Linked DNA regions of Homo sapiens: region 2 is linked to region 1. Evidence: fine-mapped expression QTL. A gene starts in region 1. The other region holds a variant in brackets. All regions are shown on one strand. Distances are between the middles of the regions.

What was found. PIP is the estimated chance that this variant, and not a neighbour inherited with it, causes the effect.
Region 2: its variant is the best candidate, but not a certain one, in a credible set for the expression of LINC02477 in pancreas (GTEx, PIP 0.78).

Annotation. Positions count from the first base shown.
Region 1 is chr4:160,513,235-160,523,596 of GRCh38, reverse strand. LINC02477 (long intergenic non-protein coding RNA 2477) reads right to left here and starts at 4,778. Exons shown (of 7, transcript XR_001741914.1): 1 at 4,627-4,778; 2 at 1,280-1,438.
Region 2 is chr4:159,547,886-159,558,247 of GRCh38, reverse strand. The region is part of intron 1 of LOC107986324 (a long non-coding RNA gene); the gene reads right to left. Among named protein-coding and RNA genes, the nearest start is that of LINC02233, 220 kb to the left of the region's middle. The variant T/C (reference allele first, on the strand shown) is at 4,676.

The DNA.
Region 1 (10,362 bases):
TGTGGCAAAAGCATAAAAGCTGAAGTGGACTTGGGACCACAGAAGAAAATAAAGTGTGCCTTTAGCATTGAGAATAAGTGAAAAGCAGACTTTCCATCTACCCTTTATTTCCACACTTGGGAAATAAGGCTGAAAGTACTTTATATGTGAGATGATAAGAGAGCCCTCCCAATGAGGGAGTCTCTTTTATAATTGCTCAACACATCTGGGTGTTACCAGCTGTCTTAAAGGTCAAGCTAACATTGGTCATAAAGGTTAAGAAACCAACAATGCTGGAGGTGGGAGGAACACAGAAAAAAATGTTTGTCATTAGGGAAAGGGAAACATTGAAACCAAAAAATTATACAAAGTTAAATGGTGCTTGAGAGAAAAAAAAAAAAAAGATCATACAAGACACGTATAATAACATTAGGAAGTGTGCATTCATTTTATATGCTAATCACATTTTTAAGTAAATGGAGTTGAAATATGGTGTTAAGAGGTGGAAGGCACATTATGTGGGCTAATTCTATCATTTCATTGTATTTACAATGAATGGCACAATTATCTGTAAATACATGCTTCTAAAATAATACATGATCCCAGTAGAAAAGTTTGAAAATGGAAAGATGTATAAGGAAAGAAATAAATGTCATGTTCAAAACAGCTTTCATTGTCTGCATAATATTTTATCATATAAATTTCTTCCTTTATATTTAGAAATTTTATTATAAATTGTACTATAGTAATTGTACTTTTTAAACAAATATTTTTGATAGTTTACTATGTGATACTAAGAATAATCCTATGAGTCAGTATTATTATCAATAACTGTTTTACAGACGAAAAAACTGAGGTTCAGGAGTTGAGATTCAAATCTAAGATATTGATTTCTATGCCTGCACTCTTCATATTAATAGTATCTTATTGATATTTAATTTAGGATAACGTCAATGCATGATATTACTGATTTAAGTATATGAAGAACTGCAAGACTCTTGACTGATTTTGCCTCATATTTCATTAAAAATGCCATGCCAATTTATTCTCCCACTAAGTTTATGACAGCATGTGAGGGCTTATTTGTTTCTACTAATAGTGGAAATAAAAATTAAGAAAAAAATTAATTTTGCCAGAATTGTCATGAAATGGCCTATTATCAGGTATGCTTTCATTTCTCTGATTATTAACTTGGTTAGTCATTTTCCATATATATAATCTCTATTATATCTAGATAGATCTATATCTAGAAAATTATCTATCTGAATAGATAAAGATAAAATTCCACAAGTCTGTATACCTACTGCATCTGGAAGAGAAGTCCAGGTAAGAGCTGCTGAGCACAGAAAATGGCATCTATCTCATCATCTAGGAGGATTCCTGGCCATAGAAGAAGAAAATTAAGCCAGAGCTGCAGTGGAACTCCATCAAGAAAGTCTGGAAGTCAATGGCCCTTGACCTGGTGAAAGAGGACATAAAGTCAGTAGTGTTTGCATTACTCAAAATTTTGTTTTTCAAAAGGAGCTAGTCAACAAATGCCCCATGGACCTCCACCAGCCTCTCCATTTCAGATATCAAAAAGGACAGCAGTGTGCTCCACCAGGATTTTTTGCAGGCAACACTGGTGGCCCTGATGCTCTGAAACAACTTCCCGACATCTACCTCATGATGAGTGCCTGAAAAACAAAAGCCTGCAGTGGGAACCAGGATCCAAATTTTCATCCAGGAGAAAACTCTGCAACTCCTGGGCCACTGGAAGCCTAGCCACACTTGGGGAGCACTAATGTTGTTCTGAGGAATGTGGACATTTACATATCCCCTCTGGGGTTTAAATACCATGATGTAGAAGGGTGGGAAAATGCCTGCAAGGGAACAGAGAGGCATTGGCAAAGGTGCCCCTTCCCTGAGCCCACGGTGGCACACTTCATTTGTTGTTAAAGACTAAAACTACCTTTCTCATTGTTAAAAATGATGCATGTGCATATGTGGTTTGTTTTTATGTGAATTGCATCTATGTATTTTTGAGTATTTGCATGTCTATCGCTTGTATTGTTGGCTGGGTCTTGTATTGCAAGACTCATTATCAGCTCAAGAGAACTAATAATTCAATTTTAAGGAATTTTTACAAGCTTTTTGATCAGTAGTTGCGAATCAGCCATCTTAGGGACATTTACATGATGGAAAAGACCAAATTCTATAAATCACCAAACACTAAAGATAAGGTTGTTTTGTCTTCTTGGAGAGTCCCCATTTATTAATTTTGCTCATTATTTTACAGATGAAGAAATTGGGTTCTAAAAGTTATATTGACATCCTTACAGTCACATACATAGATAGTGGCACAGAAGCTAACCATTTAATACTATCCCTAAACCTGGGTCAGAGGTTTCAACGGGGACAACTGAGTTAGATCATCTATGAAATTCTAAGTCATTGACTCTTTTGTTCCCTCAATGTCAGTTCATACCAGTAACATTGAGCCCTTCTGATAACATGTTGCAGTAAAAGGACCCAGGGCTCCTTGCGGCCATGGTTAATTCTAGAACTGAGACAAGTAATGTAGAAATTGGGCCTGAAGTAGTACCAGAAAATAAGGACTAACGAAACAAAAAGACAAAAAAAAAAAAGACAGGAAAGGGTGTGTCAAGGGATACAGGAGCCAACTGGAAGAGCTTCCAGTGGCCAAAGCTAGAAGAGTTTCAGAAACAAAAAAGAGAACTGAATTAAAACCAAAAGTTTAAAATAAATATTCATCTTTATATAAGCAACTGATTTAATACATGAATAGAACAGAATAGATAAATATAACATCAGAATAATCCAAATAATTTATGTAGATAATACCTTCTCAAGAAGTGATGCTTAAGTGTGGGCTGCTCAATGACTTATTTTCAAAGATTATAGTATGAAAATAGGAAAAAAGTAGTGTTACAGTGAAGAAAAATGAGAACTATTACCTCGGCCATGTGATGATAGTTAATATTAATGACATGTTCATACCATGTATTCTTAATATGATGTGATGAGAATAGCACTTTGCCTCTGTAATCTTCCTCCTTCCCCCTAAAAATGTCACCAAAGTCTAACCATTAAAAAAAATCAGATAAACCCACATTGAGCAGGGTTCTACAAAACAGCTGGTCAATGCTCCTCCAACGGTCAAGGTTATCGGAAACAAGGCAAGTTTGAGAAACTGTCACAGGCTACAGAAGCCTAAGGGGTCATGAGAACTAAATGTCATATATCCTGCATGGAACTCTGAAACAGAGAAAGAACACTGAGTAAAAACTAAGAAAATCTAAATATGTAAAAGCTTTAGTTAATAACAATGTATCAATGTTATATTATTGGTTGGAATAAATATAACATATTGAGGCAAGATGTTTATAATAAGAGAAAATGGGTGAGTGGTATACAGGAAACTTCTGTACTAATTTTGTAACATTTATGTGAAACTAAATTATTGCAAAACAAGTTTATTTAAAACAAACTGTTCATGGTTTACCATCATATTAAAAGCTCTTCCTTTGACGACTACTTATAGGTTTTGCCTGTACACGGAGTCACTTCATTCTTTATTGAAAAAAAAACTGCTTTGCATCATCTTCTATAGAACTGAGTTATGGCAGAGCAACAAATAAAAAGTAGAGTGAGAATTTTTAAGATTCTGGTCAAGGGATTTAAAATCTACCCAAGTAACTAAGAATGTAATGTATCCACCTAACTGAGTATATGAAAACAAAGTTCAGTCCACAATTGTAATAGCACATTGTTTGAGTTTTTGCTTGTAAGTCACAATTAATTGTTTAAAATGTTTTGTTTTGATCTACTTTAATCTGCAATACTTGGTTTTTTTCAAGTTGACAAGCCATTTTTAAAAAATTATTTACCAATACTTATATCCTTTATCATATTCATATTTGGCTAGATAGTTGCTTATTAATAAAGACATTTAAAGACCAGTATGTAAAAAAGAGAGGAAGGAAACCAAGTCAGTTATACTGACTAGCTCAAAGCACCTCTCCATAAAAAGTTAGTGGCAAAAATATGTTGAAGCTTTTAGTGAAAAAAAAAAACAAAACCCTAGAGAATCACCATTATTCAATTTTGTGTATTTAAAATTGTTTGATCACATTAGAATAAAAAATTTGAAAGTAGATTCCTTAAAAAATTTTTCTAATATTCGTGAGATGCCAGAATTTTTAAATACATTTTCATTAATATCACTTTTGAAAGCTAGAGTCCCATCTTTGTAAGCTTATTTGTAAAATAAGAAGGAAAACACTAAAAATAAATCATGCAAATGAATATTGATAATTAATTGGAAGTTTTGCCTAAATATATGCATAGCTAAGCACGTTTTGAAATAGGTAATTATCTTAGTCCATTTGTATTGCTATCAAGGAATACCTGAGGCTGGGTAATTTATAAGGAAAAGAGGTTTATTTTGCTCACAGTTCTGCAGGCTTCACAAGAAGCATGGAACCGGTATCTGCTTCTAGTGAGAGACTCAGGCTGCTTCCACTCATGGTGGAAAGCAAAGGGAGCAAATGGTCACAGATTGCATGCAAGAGACAGAAAGCAAGAGAGAAGTGAAGGTGAGGGGCTAGCAACTAGCTATTGTTGATAAAATAGGTGAGAACTTACTAATTTCCAGGAGGACAGTAGCAAGCCATTCATGAAGTATCCACCACCATGATCCAAACACCTCCAATTAGGCCCCACCTCCAACATTGTGGATCAAATTTCAACATGCTGGTTGGAGGGTCAAATATCCAAACTATAATAGCATTCAATTGGATTCTCTGCAATTTAAAAAGAGGAGAAAAGCCAAAGTTAATTTTTCTGAAGCAGGAGATTTAGTTAAGAATTTTAATTCAACAAATGACAGTAAAAGGTATCCAGAATACTCTGTAACCAAGTTAAAAATATATACCAGATAAAATAGCATATTTATCCAATAAAATTTTCAAATTATACTTAATGAGCTGATAATTGCAAATCTTCCTTAACCTAAAAATTCAAAAGGGATTCATTTATACTGTGATCGGCATTGCTCAGAATGAATCTAGTTATCTCTGTTTTTAAATGAAGTTCTCTTAAATGCATGAAGTAGGAAATGGGACATAACTATGCCACAATTATTGCAGTTTTAAAATATAAAAGGAAATAAAAGAATGTCAGTTTCAGTTCCATCACTTCTCCAGGAATGACAAGGTGCAATAAGTCAATAGAAATAGGATATGATTAATTGAATTAATAGTGTTCAGTGAAAATGGAGTTCAAAAAGGTTGGCAACTTAAAGGAGTTTAATTTTTAGAGTTGAGTCATATGTCACAAGATAGAGAAAGGGCGTTTTTGTGACACAGAAAGATATCCTATAATAGCTTAAAAGAATTTAGGAAGGGAATTTTTATTATACGTTAGTGCAATATGCCAGGATGGTTAGACCTTGCTTTTTACCTTTTGCAAACAAGTATGCCAGTTAGAATATTGACACAAGGGCTCATGATTCAAAAATTGTTATTCAATATTATATGTTCTAGAGTATGCATAAAATGTTTTGGTTATATTATATATTCAATCATATCTAGACAGTTTAATTACTCATAACTATTTCTTATTATAGTGATTATTAAATGTTTGTTTGGTTTAATAGCCTCTTTAAAAGCAATGGCAATAAACTGATTCATTTCTATTTTATTTTTTTGTAGAGACAGGGTCTCAATATGTTGTCCAGGCTGGTCTCCAATTCTTAGGCTCAAGTGATCCTTCCACCTCAGCCTCCCAAAGTGCTGAGATCACAGATGTGACCCATAGTGTTTGGCCTTAAATTCACTCATTTCTCTTTTTTTGAGACAGAGTCTCGCTCAGTCACCCAGGCTGGAGTGCAGTGGCGAGATCTCGGCTCACTGCAAGCTCCGCCTCCCAGGTTCATGCCATTCTCTTGCCGGGACTACAGGTGCCCGACACCACACCCGGCTAATTTTTTGTATTTTTAGTAGACCCGGAGTTTCATTGTGTTAGCCAGGATGGTTTCGATCTCCTGACTTTGTGATCCGCCCACCTCGGCCTCCCAAAGTGCTGGGATTACAGGCGTGAGCCACCGCACCTAGCCAAATTCATTCATTTCTATTAATAAAATTGAGAACTATTTGGTTAGTGAAAGAATATCATAGGACAGTCTCATAAAATAAATATATTTTCTATATTTGATGTTAAACCTAAAAAAGGAGTCCAGGTTTCACAGTTGCATCTAAATAGAAAAGTATCAAACATTAATATAGTCCTCTGTCTTTGGAAGAAATATCAAATAAAATATAAAATATAAATAAAATATAAAAATCTCTGTTCATTAAGTTTCTCAGACAGTTCCAATCTGAGCTGATAATATTGAAGCTAAAGTTTAAAACAATTAGTAGAATTAGTAAGGGTCCGCTTTTGAGATAGTGAAGTGCTGAATGCCGCATTTTATACAAGATCTACTGTGTTCGAAGCCCCTCAGATTGGAAGTGTATGATATCAGAAATATTTCAGTAGTAGAGGTCACCTATATGAATTAAATTAAATTATTCTTTGATTCTGTTATTTTTAAGAAACATAAATACCAAAATATGTGGATTGAACCATCCATCCTTTCAACTACATAGAATAATATTGTCAACTAGCAGAATTTCAGAGCATCTTTAAGGAGTCCTAGCAACCGGTGGTCTAATTTCACAAATGAAATATTTGGGGCTTACAGAAGTCAGACTTGTGTCATGGTTATCTCCACAGGGCATAAGGTAAATTCTTGCAAATTTGTGCTTATATACAATGCTATATATATTGTCTTTCTAACTCCATTCACTACCAGTTACTTGGGAAACCCAGATGTGCAAGCAAGGGTTACATTGTCCCCATTAGAGCGTCAACTGATTGACCACATTCTCCCTGTTGAGAGAATCACACATACGCCAGGACCCTAATGCTTCTGTTACATATATTTACAGGAAAGTGAATTAATTAATTTCTAACTTGGAAAATATCTTTCTTACATCAGATTATCTGACATCTGCCTTCTTTTAATTATCTTAGTTTATCTTTACCTTTCTTTCTCTTTTGTTTCAGTCTTTAATTCAATGTACATATTATCCCAAAACAACTCTGATAGTGAAATAAAAGTTTTTATAATGGAAAGAAAAACAATGTATTAGGAAATATATTTTGATGTCCAAAATTAACTTTAATAAACTCTAAAGTTATTTCAAATACAAAAGTTCTATACCTCTTCTTCGTGCAAAAACTTAACATGATTGTCTCTGTCACCACAACTGACAATACATAAGTCAATAAATAAATAAATACTTGATATATTTGAGTACATGTTGGACATCCTTATTTTTAATAATTTGTTTTCCATTAAGAAAAGTGAGGTATCAGGATTATTTAGAATATATGAAATTAGTTAATTTAGTGATCATAGAGAAGAGTGTCTAGGAAGTCTTAAAAAAGAACCGAAAAAAACAGGTTAAGAGACTCCACACTTTCAGAATGTTTTAGAATGTAGAATTCTTGCTACAGCTGTGGAGAGATTGCCAAGAGAATGATCAGTGACCAGCAAGGTGGAGCCTCATTCTTAGAAAATATTAAACTGGAGATGGTATATCACAGTGGTTCAGGACATGTGTTCTGGAAATACACACTGGTTATATTAGACACCCAGTTTTGCCACTTACTGCTATCATATTTGATGGTTTCTTTAATATTTCATGTTTCAGTTTACTTTCCTGTAAAATGAGGTAATTAGAGTACTCAGTAAAGTTGATGTAAAACATAAGATTTAATACATGCAATATACTAAAAGCAGTGCTTAGCACATCACAAATCTTCAAAAGAGTTACTTATTATAATTTTTCATCACTTTTTGCCAATTATCCTGCTGACAACTTTTTATGCTACTGGTATTATAATGAAAGCACAAGCAAATAAATAGTAATTAGAAGCCAGGCGCAATGGCTCACGCCTGTAATCCCAGCATCTTGGGAGGCCACGGTGGGCGGATCATGAGGTCAAGAGATCAAGACCATCCTGGCCAACATGATGAAAATCTGTCACTACTAAAAATACAAAAATTAGCTGGGCATGGTAGTGCACGCCTGTAGTCCCAGCTACTCGGGAGGCTGAGGCAGGAGAATAGCTTGAACTCTGGAGGCGGAGGTTGCAGTGAGCCAAGATCTCCCCGCTGCACTCCTGCCTGGCGAAATAGCGAGACTCCGTCTCAAAAAAAAGAAAAAAAAAAGTATTTCGAGGAAAAGTAACTCTTAGAGAAAGTACTCTACCTTGCTAAATTGAAAGGATTCTAAACAAAAAGTACATTTTCACAACTTTTGCAACTAAACTTATAGATGAAAAATAGATTGCCTCAATTAGATGCAACAGAATAAGGCTTGAAAGGATATAAGGTACAGCATGGTAAATACTGTACTGTCTGCTTGAAATTTACTGAGAGTAAACCGTAAATATATACAATTCTTATTTGTCAATTATACATCAATAAAGTTGGAGGCGGGGGTGAAGCAGAATGGAGGCAGAGCTCATTGCATGTAAAAATGTGAAATAGATATATCTAGATTCCGTCTTCTAGTGACTTAGCTTTGTGGTTGTCAGAGGCAGTATTAAAAGTGAGAGCCTCACAAATAGCAGTTGTGGCTGCAGTACTTAATGACTTTTCTGTTACAGCAACATGGGTATGAAATTAAGGCCTATTCCTAATTGCTTGTATTAAATTATATTCTGTATAACTAGATCAGTTTTGTATTTTCTGTATTCATCTTCAATGATTCTCTACTTGCAACCATCATTCACCATAGCAAGTAACTGCTACAGGCAGAAGCAGCATGGCTACTGGTGTGAATAGCACGGTCAGCACTGTAATCAAAATGATTTGAACTGCAGGTTCTTTGGTGGGGGCCAAGTGATCATGATGCCCCTAGGACTAAAATAGATGAACAATCTAATAAAGTCCTGTTAGACTGGCCATAAAAAATTTAAAGAAAATAAATTTCAAAACAAAACAAAAAACCTCCAGGTCTGGAGAAGAGTGACCTGACTGAAGTCACTAAAATGAAGAATCAGGATTCTTCACCCAATTTCTAAACCTGAGTCAGTTTATAGACACAAAGCTCCTTAAAGGAAAAACAGCATTCCTATGAGGAAGAACATTCTGACGTTACCACAGGTGTGCCTGTGTGGCTTGTGGCCACCTACACATGTAAACATGCAGAGAAGAGGCAGCAGTCTGAAGAGAATGTGGTTCATGGACTTGGCTGCTAGGAATCTCTTGGGTCGTGGAAAGTCACCGTGGTTTGGCAGAAGAGGAATGAAACTTTGGTTCAAGTATGTCTCATAAAATGATATTAAGAGTACATTTCTGATTCTACTCTGTGTTCATTTCCTTCACTTTTCACACACAAATGTGAATTAACCATAGTTAGAACCTGGCAGAATATCTACACTGGCTTCTTGTAATATGAGAGCCACAGTGCAATCCCTTTAATTCTTTACTAAAATAATATAAGAAACATGCAACACCACATCTGTTCTGGATTTCAGACATTTATACCAATATGGGTTGAGTGTCCTTTATCCAAAAATAGACTTAGAAGTGTTTTGGATTTCAGAATTTTGTATGGATTTGGGAATATTTGCTTGTATATAATGAGATATCTTGGAGATAGGACCTAAGTCTAAACCCAAAATTCAGGTTTCACATATACATTATAAGCATAGCCCAAACGTAATTTTATATAATATTTTAATAATTTTGTGCATAAAATAAATAAGTTTTGACTGCATGTTGACTGTGATGTGGCACATGAGGTCAGGTGTAAAATTCCCCATTTGTGGTATCATGTCATGTTGGTGTTCAAAAACCTTTGGGTTTTGGAACATTTTGGATTTTGGATTTTCAGATTAGAGGTATCTCGATTTGTATCAAGAAATTAAAATATTGAGGACTGGTGGTTCCTGTCTCTTCCCTGATTTTTTAGTTTACTTATTGTATGTAAAAAGCAAATGAACCTTTAAGGATATAAGTGGATTATCATAATCATAACTGATATTAACTGTAATTGAAGACAGTTTCCTGATACAGTCTCTTTACTTGCCCATATCATTACAGTTCCTGTCATCTTTTACAAAGCTTTCAAGCTAATCATATATTTACTATTCCAGGAACCCACAATACTACAAATAATTTGTTTTCATCCAGTGATAGCAAGAATGGTTCTTACTATTTTACTTTGTTATCTGTCATAATCTAGTCTACAGGATCATTGAGCGCCTCCCATCTTGGAACCATCATCCAGATTCATCATACTTATTGTATATCCCACTAATTAC
Region 2 (10,362 bases), 970 kb after region 1:
TTTGGAATTCATGTACAATTGACCAGCATTAACATAAAAACAGAGATCTTAAAACTGACAAAACAGACTATCTGGAGCAATAAGATACCAAATTCCAACCTGACTCTTGTATGGCATCACATGATAAACAGCAGGCCCTACAAGAAACCAAAGTATTTTACCCAAAAATATATTTCTTTGACATATTTTGAAATGGTCCTCCAAAGCTGTCTCTTGTGGGGAAAATCTACATTCTGTAAAGAATCCCCACTCCTTTCCAAGTATTTACCTGATGCAGGAGAGATTTAACTAAGAGTCTGGCACTTTTTAAGGTCTTATAAGAGATATTTGTCATCTTTTCTCTCTGAAGACTGCTACCTGGAGGCTTCATCTTCCTAACAAGAACCTTGGCTTTCACAAACCCCCTTATCTTAACCCCAAGCATTTCTTTTTGCTGACTTCAAGTTTTTAGGCAAAATCTAACTCTTTCAACCAACTGCCAATCAGGAAATCTTTGAGTCCACCTGTAACCCCTTTCAAGATGTCCCACCTTTCCAGGCCACCAAAGTAAATCTTACATTTATTGATTTATGTTTTACCTGTAACTTCTGTCTCCCTAAAATGTATAAAATCAAGCTGTAACCCAACCACCTTAGGCACAAGTTCTCAGGGACTCAGGGACAAGGAGTGGAATTATAATGGTTAATTTTAGGTGTAAATTTGACCGGATTAAGAATGATGTGGAGAACTGGTAAAGCATCATTTCTGGGTATGTCTGTGAGGGTGTTTCCAGAGGAGATTGGCATGTGAATTGGTAGACTGAGGAAAAAAAAAAAAAAACACCCTCAACATGTGTGGGCACCAACCAATCAGCTGCAGGCACAAATAGAACAAAGGCAGAGGAAAGGCAAATTTGCTTTTCCTTCTTTCCTGCAGATAGAACACCCTTCTTCTCCTTCATCTTACATCTAAGATGTAAGCCTTCATCTTAGATGTTAGAACTCAGAAACTCCAGCCTTTGGACTCCAGGACTTAAACCAGAGGCCCCGGGTCTCAGGCTTTCAGCCTCGGATTGAGAATTACACTATCAGTTTCCTTTATTCTGAGGCTTTTGGATTTGGACTGGGACATACTACTGGTATCTCAGGGTCTCCAGCTTATAGACAAACTGTTATGGAACATCTCAGCTTCCATAATCACATGAGCTAATTACCCTAGTAAATCTCCTCTTATGTATCTACATACCTATACCTAGTTCTGTCTCTCAGGAGAACCGAGATCACCGAGAGAGATCTTTGGATACTGGAATGTCCCTGAAGGTAAGGGAATGAGTGAGAGATCAACTATCTCTACTATTACATTAAAAAAAAGACACTAGTCTTCTAAGGATCATCATTAATCTCTACTCTCACTAAATTTTTTTTTTTCCAATTTCACTCTGGAAGTCCTAAAAAGCTTCTAAGAACCATCAAGTTTAATCTCTTTTACTGCAACTTCTTTCAGTTAACTCTTCCACTCAATATTTTCTTAATTTCCCTATTCATTCTTCTTATGCCTATCAAGATTCTTTTTCTCTAAAGGAGCTCTTCTCATTAAACATCTTCCCTCTCCTTTCTCTAAGAACAGTCTTCTAGTTGCTACATTATTTTTAAACCATAAATCACTCAACCATTAGACATATGTCTTAAAATAATTTATTGATGTTTTAGTCTATGCAAGGTGCTCTTGAAAGATAAACACAGGAATGAAATAATGTTCCTGCCCAAAGAAGACAACCCAGTGGAAAGCATGATGTGATAAATGCCATTCTGTGCCATGAACGTTATACTTCGGAATCACAATATAAACATGCTGATACAATTGTCAAAATGGGCTCTTTTCTCCTTTTTAAATTTCTTGGCTATTATACTAAAGACTCAGCAAATCTCAGTTCTGAAAAGAAAACCTTTTTACAGCTCTTTTAAAATGTGAAAAGATAAAAACAATGTTTTAATATCCCTAACTGACAAACATGAATTTACTCAAAAGGAGGAAGGGAGGAAGGAAGGAAGGGGGAAAGAAGGAATGAAGGAGGGAAAGAAGGAAGGAAGAAAGGGAGGTATGGAGGAAGGAAAGAAGGAAGGAAAGAAGGGAGGAAGGAAGGAAGGGAGGAAACACTTCTAACTACCATGTCCCCAGGGATCTGTCATGTGTCACAATTGGCTTACATTCTGTAATGACTGGGGTAACCCTTTAATTGAGTGCTGACACTTATATGTCATCAAATGACATCTTCTGCAGGCACCTTTAGAGCATTTTCATATACTTCCTGTACTCATCTGATGGCCAGAATTATTAAAATAGTCTTTTTACTGAGCAGACTTCTCTGTAATTTGAACATGTCAACTCCTTACAGCAGTGGCTAAAGGCTCACATATCACTTAGCATGCTGGAGATAAGGGCAAGGGCTTTTTCATACATTTACTTTTTTCATTTTATCTATGCACTATCTTTTTACAAATTGAAGACTAGAGTATAAATTTCTGATTCACATTCCGCTTTCAAAACTGAAAGGCTGATATGATGGTGGGTGAAAATATTTCCCTCAGGACTTCAAGCCACAGAGCCATGGCATATTCCCAGATAATGAGGTCTCTAGGTAAGTATAGTAGCAGACAAAATAAATGCATCTTACATAGCATGTCTGGAAGAAATAACTGAGCCCTTGAATTTTCCAAGTGTCTTCAGTAAAGTCCTTGAAAGTTAACCCATGGAGATAATTTCTCACTTAGCCCAAAATGTTAAAATGAGTCACAATGCTTTCATGGAAGCTAGGTTCATAAGTTGTCTGGTATGGAACTTTTGCCTATGACAGGAATAGAATAAATATTTACTGAGAAATTCAGCCATTGTTTCAGCAAAGTTTACAACTTTGATATTTTTGTCAGTGGTCTGGAGCTTAGAAAGTATTTTCCCATGGATGTTGTAGAAAGAGGAGACCATAAAGAATATTACCTTAAAATAAAGATGTCTCCACTTTTAGAAAAATATAACAGGACAACTCATTTTAAATTATGTTAAAAGAATATCAACATAACCTGTTGTATTATTTTGTCAAATATTTGGCTCTGATATATACACTGTTAAATTCCAATAAGGATTTAAGACAGCTTACACAGATATCTTAAGTTTAACAAGAAATTAAAAAAAAAACACACTAGTCACATTCTGGTAAAGGTATGGGGAAATGGAACATCTCATGCATTTTAAAAGGGAATATAAAATATTCAACATTTCTGGAGGGATATTTGTACCAACATTTAAAATGTGCATACCATTTGATCCCACAGTTCCATTTCTCATCATTTATCTTAAAGAAATAAGAGTGTGGCCGGGCACGGTGGCTCACACCTGTAATCCCAGCCCTTTGGGAAGCCAAGGCGGATGGATCACGAGGTCAGGAGATCAAGACCATATTGGCCAACACGGTGAAACCCCATCTCTACTAAAAATATAAAAAATTAGCCAGGCGTGGTGGCAGGTGCCTGTAGTCCCAGCTACTCGGAAGGCTGAGGCAGGAGAATGGCGTGAACCCAGGAGGCAGAGCTTGCAGTGAGCCCAGATCAAGCCACTGCACTCCAGCCTGGGCGACAGAGTGAGACTCTGTCTCAAAAAAAACAAAAAAAAGGAAAGAAAGAAATAAGAGTGTGAGTAAACAAATATGATACATAAATACATTTGTCGAATGTTGCATAATAAATATTGAAAATGAGAATGTCTAATAAGAGATTGAGTGAATAACGATGTATCCATATAACGAAATACTATTTAGCTTTTAAAGATACCCACAATATTTTGTTGAGTTAATAAAGCAGATTATGGAATACAATATGTGGTATAGCTACGTTTATGTAGAATGCATTCATTATAGGTTTATACTTGCAGAAATGTCTTGAAAGATATCAAATGAAATTCCTAACAGCAATTATTTTTGAGGAGTGAAATGAGGGACTGTTTGTCACATATTACTTTAAAATAAAGATGTCTCCACTTTTAGAAAAATGTAACAGGGCAACTCATTTTAAATTACATTTAAAGAATATTTCATGACGTTGGAAAATGCTCACAATTTTTAAATTAGAAAAAGCAGGTTCCTAGCCAGTGTAGACAACATGACTGTGATTTTCTAAATGTAGTCATACATAGAAAAAGTTTGTGCCAAAACGTTAGCAGTGCCATTTTCACAGGGAAAATTGATCCAAGCTGCAGCTTGAGAGAATAGACTAGAAATTCACTTGCCTCCATGAAGCCCTGGTAGTGAGTTACAAGGGGTTTTCTTGTCTCACCTGTGTACAAGTCACAGCAGCAGGAATGAAATTGCTGCTGCTGCAAGAACTGCCCAGAGAACAGAGAAGAGAGTCCTGTGCAGTCTTAGCGGTATCTAGAAAGGTAGAAAACCTGGGGGAAGAGCATTTGCAGTAAGCAGAGTAGTGAGGTTAAGTTCAAGATCAGACTGACAAGAAAAGTCACACATATTGAGAGTTTACTTACATATTAGGCATTCTGCTAAGAGCTTCAGATAGAAATTATCTGTTTTATCCTCAAAACAACCTCAGGAATAGAATATTCTTATATCCATTTTTGAGATAAAGAAGTCAATACTCAAGAAGCCAATACTAGTAAGTAACTAGTGGGTGGCAAAGCCCAGAACAGAATA[T/C]ACACCTGCCTGATTCCCAAGACCACAGCTTTTTAACCATTTTATGCATGTGACAGTGTAAATCGTGTAGGCATAGCCGCAATACCTTTTTATTCTGATTTTAAGATGTTAGGCAAATCAATGCAGTCTGCTGCTTTGTGTTGGCTCAGACCAATTTCACCTGGTTGCCATCTGGACACCTACACAGGGTGCCGTGAAAAAATATAATGCACTACATAAAACTCAAGGCATCTCTCTAAAGTGCGCAGTGCAGTTTTCAACCCAGAAATCAGAGAGAGAAAATGACTGTCCCCAAGATTGCTATTCTGAAAGAGATCATTGCTGTTCATCTCACTCTGCTCACAAAGTGCTTTGCTACAGTGACACTTACACCCTTGGAGGTCAACCCACATTTCAGTGACAGCTACCAGTTCAGCTGTGTCAATTCCACCTGACTCTGCTTGCTTGCAGGGTTTCCAGAGCACACAGCTTACCAAGCCATTATTATTCTGTGCCTGTGCCCAGAGAGCTCTACAAAGGGTGCATTTTAATCACCCTGGAAGAGATAAATAAATAAACAAATAGCTCATAGGTAATATGTAATGTAATAGAGAAAAAACAACCATGACTTGTTGCCCTCACAGTCCACACCCTCATGCCTCTGGTGATTACTTGCAGAATTCTATGGCGCAGAAAAGCTGAATTTTATTTTTAAGCTTATTCCTTAAAACTGTTAATTGATGGCTCTTTCCACATCTTACCTCAAATGTCCTTGCTCATCTCCACTCTAAGGTAAGCATATTTCACTGGGAAACTGCATCTATGCATGGATAACAATGCACTCAACACCTCCTAAATTCACACTCAGTCTATACAGGAAATCCAGTCAAGTGTTTAGGAATACCAAAGCATCTTTTCCTCTCTTTACTGCACAAAAAAAGGAAAAACTTAGAGATCTAGATATTATTCTCAGGTCACAGGGTTGATCTATTTTCCGACTTGCAGCTAGATCTGTGACGTTCTAATTTTGGTAATGTTTCTGGCAAAGTTGGTTGAAATGTTTCAGGAGAAAAGGGATCTTAAAGCATAGTTGTTGCTTGATGGCAAAACCAAAGTGCTTTGAAACACTCTCAACAGTTCACAGTCTGGGTTCCATGGACCCCCAGCTTCAGAATATTCATGAATTCCTTAAACTATACATAAAATTTTGCCCAAATGTGCATTTTCTACCACTTATGAAATTTTCAAAGTGTCTGCAAACCAAAACATTACTAGGAATCACTGAGTTATTTAGAAAGTCCGGGGGGAAATATCTGTAAAACTAGTGTTATTTACACAAATGTTTATCTCAAGAAAACACACTCATACTTATTCGATTATTGTTCATTCATTCATTCACATCAGGCCAATCTCTATCCCATTATAAGCTCTACCCATTTCTACTTCTAACTTCTTTTGCTGATCTCTCTCCCCATTCATATGCTACGTTTCCTTGTAAGCTAAAGTACTTCCTTGGTAAGTCTTTCAGTGACTAGGCATTAACCCAGATTGATTTTTTTCTTTATTTCTGAATTGGTATTGTACTTAGAGTCTGGGGAAATCAGAGAGAGAGAGAGTTTTCCATAAATGTTTTACATATGGACATGTCTTCAAATATATTATGACATATACCACATACCTTAGCCTTATCTATTTTTTATTGTCAAAGGGCCAATAGTTCATCAAAGCCAGGGATAAGTCTTACTTTTTTGTGTAGCCCTCACTGTGACTAAAACTATGTTGCATGGTAATCTGTCACTATGACTATCAGTAACCCATGGAAATGTCTGTAGTTTAAGCATTCCTCACGGTAATTGAATTATCTATAAAGGAAATTTTTTCCTAAAGTTAAAATGATACATCAGAGGGAACATGAATTAGAGATGAATAAAAATATAAAATATTCCTCCCAGTCAAATTATAAACTCCATATCTAATCCATACCACTTATTAGTAAATCCTACTAGGATTTCTGGCAAATATGTGCATATTTTCTTTCCAGAGTCTGACCTGTTTTCACTATTCCACTGATAGTATCCTGGTCTTGTGATTATTGCAACAGCTTCCTGACTAGTCTTTGTATTTCTGCCTCTGCTCCCTAGAGTCTCTTTTTCATGAAGCAATAAGATTGAGTCTTTTAAAATGTGAGTCAGATCATGACTCTCCCCTTCTTCAAATTTGCCCACGACCTTCATCTCAAGAATAAAAACCAAAGTCTTTAAAATGGCTCCCAAGACCCTGGTTATTCAGCTACCCACACTCCACTTTGGTCACAACTGCTGTAATTTCAACTCTCCTCCTGGCTCACTCCATTTGAGCCAACACTTTCAATTCCTACACCAATTTCTAGCTGTTCTTTGAACCCATCAAACATATTCCTATCTCAAAGTGTTTGCTATTCCCTCCACATAGTACATTCCCCTCAGACCTCTTCTCACTACCTCCTGATCATGAGGCCTTCCCAGACCACTCTCTGAAAACAACACACACAGAGACATAGGCACAAAGTACTCCTTTTCTCCTCACCCTGCATGTCTATTTTTCTCCGCTTAACACATTTATCTCCATTTAACACATTATATATTAGTTTATTATCTTTCTTCCCCAAGCAGAGGTCAAGTGTTTTTGCCTTGTTCAATACTATAACCTCACAGTGGCTAGGACATTGTCAAATACATATAAAGGGCTCACTATATTTTTGTTGAATGATTGATTCATAGTAGTAAAGTTTCTTTGGAAGAACAATAACCATTTGAAAATACTTTTTAAAATAAAATTATTTAAAATTTATCTGCAAAAAAAAATTAGGAGGCTGCTATCATGTTAATATTTCCCCCAAAGTTCATGTGTTGGAAACTTAATCCCCAATGCAACAGTGTTGAGAGGTCCAACCTTTAAGAGATGGTTAAGTCATAAGGGCTCTGCCTTCATGAATGGATGAATATCATTATTTCAGGAGTGTGTTAGTTATCACAGAGTGGGCTTGTTATAAAAGTGAGTTTGGCCCTCTCTTGCTCTCTTGCTCTTTCACATTTTCTTGCCCTTTCACTTTCTTCCTTGGGATGAAGCAGCAGGAGACCCTCACCAGATGTGAGCCCCTCAACCTTGGACTTCATAGCCTCTAGAACTGTAAAAAATAAATGTCTTTTCTTTATAAACTTCCCAGTCTGCGGTATTCTGTTATAGCAACACAAAATGGGCTAAGACAGAGGAAAAACACCAAAATGTCCACAATATGATCAGTGATTGGTCATTTCCGAAATTTCTTTAATGGATACATTAAATAAAAACAAAGGAAGAGGGCCGGGCACGGTGGCTCACGCCTGTAATACCAACACTTTGGCAGGCCAAGGAGGGCAGATCACAAGGCCAAGAGATCGAGACCATCCTGGCTAACACGGTGAAACCCCGTCTCTACTAAAAATACAAAAACAAAATTAGCCAGGTGTGGTGGCAGGCACCTGTAGTCCCAACTACTTGGGAGGCTGAGGTGGGAGAATGGCGTGAACCCGGGAGGCGGAGCTTGCAGTGAGCCGAGATTGTGCCACTGCACTCTATCCAGCCTGGGCAACAGAGCGAGACTCTGTCTCAAAAGAAAAAAAGAAAAAAAAAAAAAAAGGAGGAGGAGGACAAAAAAAGAAGAAGAAAAGAGTTTAAGTAATAGTGAGAATGTTTGAGATCTTGTCACAAAGAAAAAATAGTAGCTGTGAGACTTAAACAGTGAGACAAATCATCTGGTAATTTTAGGACAACTAAAAATTTTCTCTGGAGACTAATCTCTTGGAGGCAGTAGGGTAATGGTATTATATATGTTATCCAACATTATCAAAAAATATCATTACCTCTAATTATTGATTGTCTGCCATTATCATCTCTCTAGAAGACACATTTGGTTCTCCTCCCCAGTCCTGTATACCTCCTTACATTTTCATTCACACTGGCTATGTCCACCAGCATGTTTTCACTTTCACCAGCCACTAACCATATATCTTTGTCAGAGGACTAACCTCAGGATCCCAATACTCTTTGCCTCGGCACACAAGGAGTGGCCTGGGAAATTATTTCCCAGCAGTGACAACTGTTGTCATCAATGACTCCATTTGAGTTGTATAAACACTCCAACTTACTGCCCATGATCATGACAGCTATGAGGTGTGGCTACACTGTCTCTTGATCTTCCTTGCAGGAATGAGTCAAAGTTCTTCATCACAGGACTCACCCTTGCTTGGCTTCTTTTATTTCTTGCCTCACTTTTCCACTCCCTTACGGTCTTCTTGAGAATACTCCATTAATCACTTTTACACAAACCCTTAACTCAGAATTTGCTACTGGAGAACGCAACCTAAGAAACTTAGTAGCAGAAATGATGCTGAAAGCTGATACTCAGTATAGGATTCAGTGTTTGGATGACTCACTGGCTAGAAGGCAACAGGAACCTCATTGTTGGTGGTAAGTAAAGTGACAAAACCCCAGGACCATTGCTTAAACTTTCATGCGTGGTGAATTGGGATGGAACACAAGAGGAAAAAGACATACTAGATTGTTTAATATCTAGTATTTGAGATATATGGTGATTATGGTAGCTATAAGATCTGTGGGATTTGTGGTCATTATTAAGTGCCATCAATGGACTGAAGAAATAAAATTCCAAGTTTACGTCAGCAAATTACCAATTCCGAACATAATGTGAAAGCTGTAAGTTCTCCATGGCAGGATTTAAAGAGAATATCTTCATCTGTAGCTGCATATAAGGTGGTCCTGAAGACCAGAACCAAAACTTAAGAGTGAGAGTAGCAAACCTGCAAAGAAGGCTGATTAATATTTTGGCAAGTTTCTTATGCTAAAGGTAGGATCCTGATAGAGAAGGAGTGGGATCCTGAGATGGAATGGAAATTCCTGGAATACACACAAAATTATTAAACTCCCAATGCCCCTAAACTCCTGAGCCTGAAAAAGTACCCCAGTTCTACCTGCAGAACATCAGCTTCCTCTTGCCTAAACACTGTGCAGAAACCTCAACTGTGATCAATGCTCTGCAAGATTACACTCACCTTTTAAGATGGTTCCACACCTCCCTTCCTATTATTCTTGCATGATCTGATTGGGAGAGTACTCCATCTGCTAAAGGAGAAAAGGAATTATTCATTGAGGGAGATCCAGGATCTGTCTCATAGGTGCTGGCAAGAACTGAAAGAACATGCCTAGAAGTGGATCCTGAAGGTGCTGAACTGGCAAAGGTGGACTATAAGCTGGATAAGGGAGAATTTTTTAATCTGGGGGCATGCTCCCATAACCCAACACCCTAGCAGGGAAATCCACAGTCAATCCTAATAAATTTTGCTTGGTTTATCCCCAGAAACTTGGAAAAAAACAATGAGTCATATTAATTGAGGTTAAAATTCCTGGGCAGAGTATTGAGAAAGAGATTAGCAGGCTCAGAGAGGTGAGCAAGATAGTTACATAAGACCTAAGAATCCACCAAATAACCATGTTCCCTGCATAGTCCTGGAAGACACTCCTTTCACTAACTGTTAGGGAATGCATTAGTGAGGAGGACACTGGCATCATCAAAAAGCTCATTTGTTACTGTTTCTAGTAGGCTGGGATTGATAGTAGGAGATGCTGTAATGGAACTGACTTTCTTGTATCAGCGGGGAAGGATCTGAAAT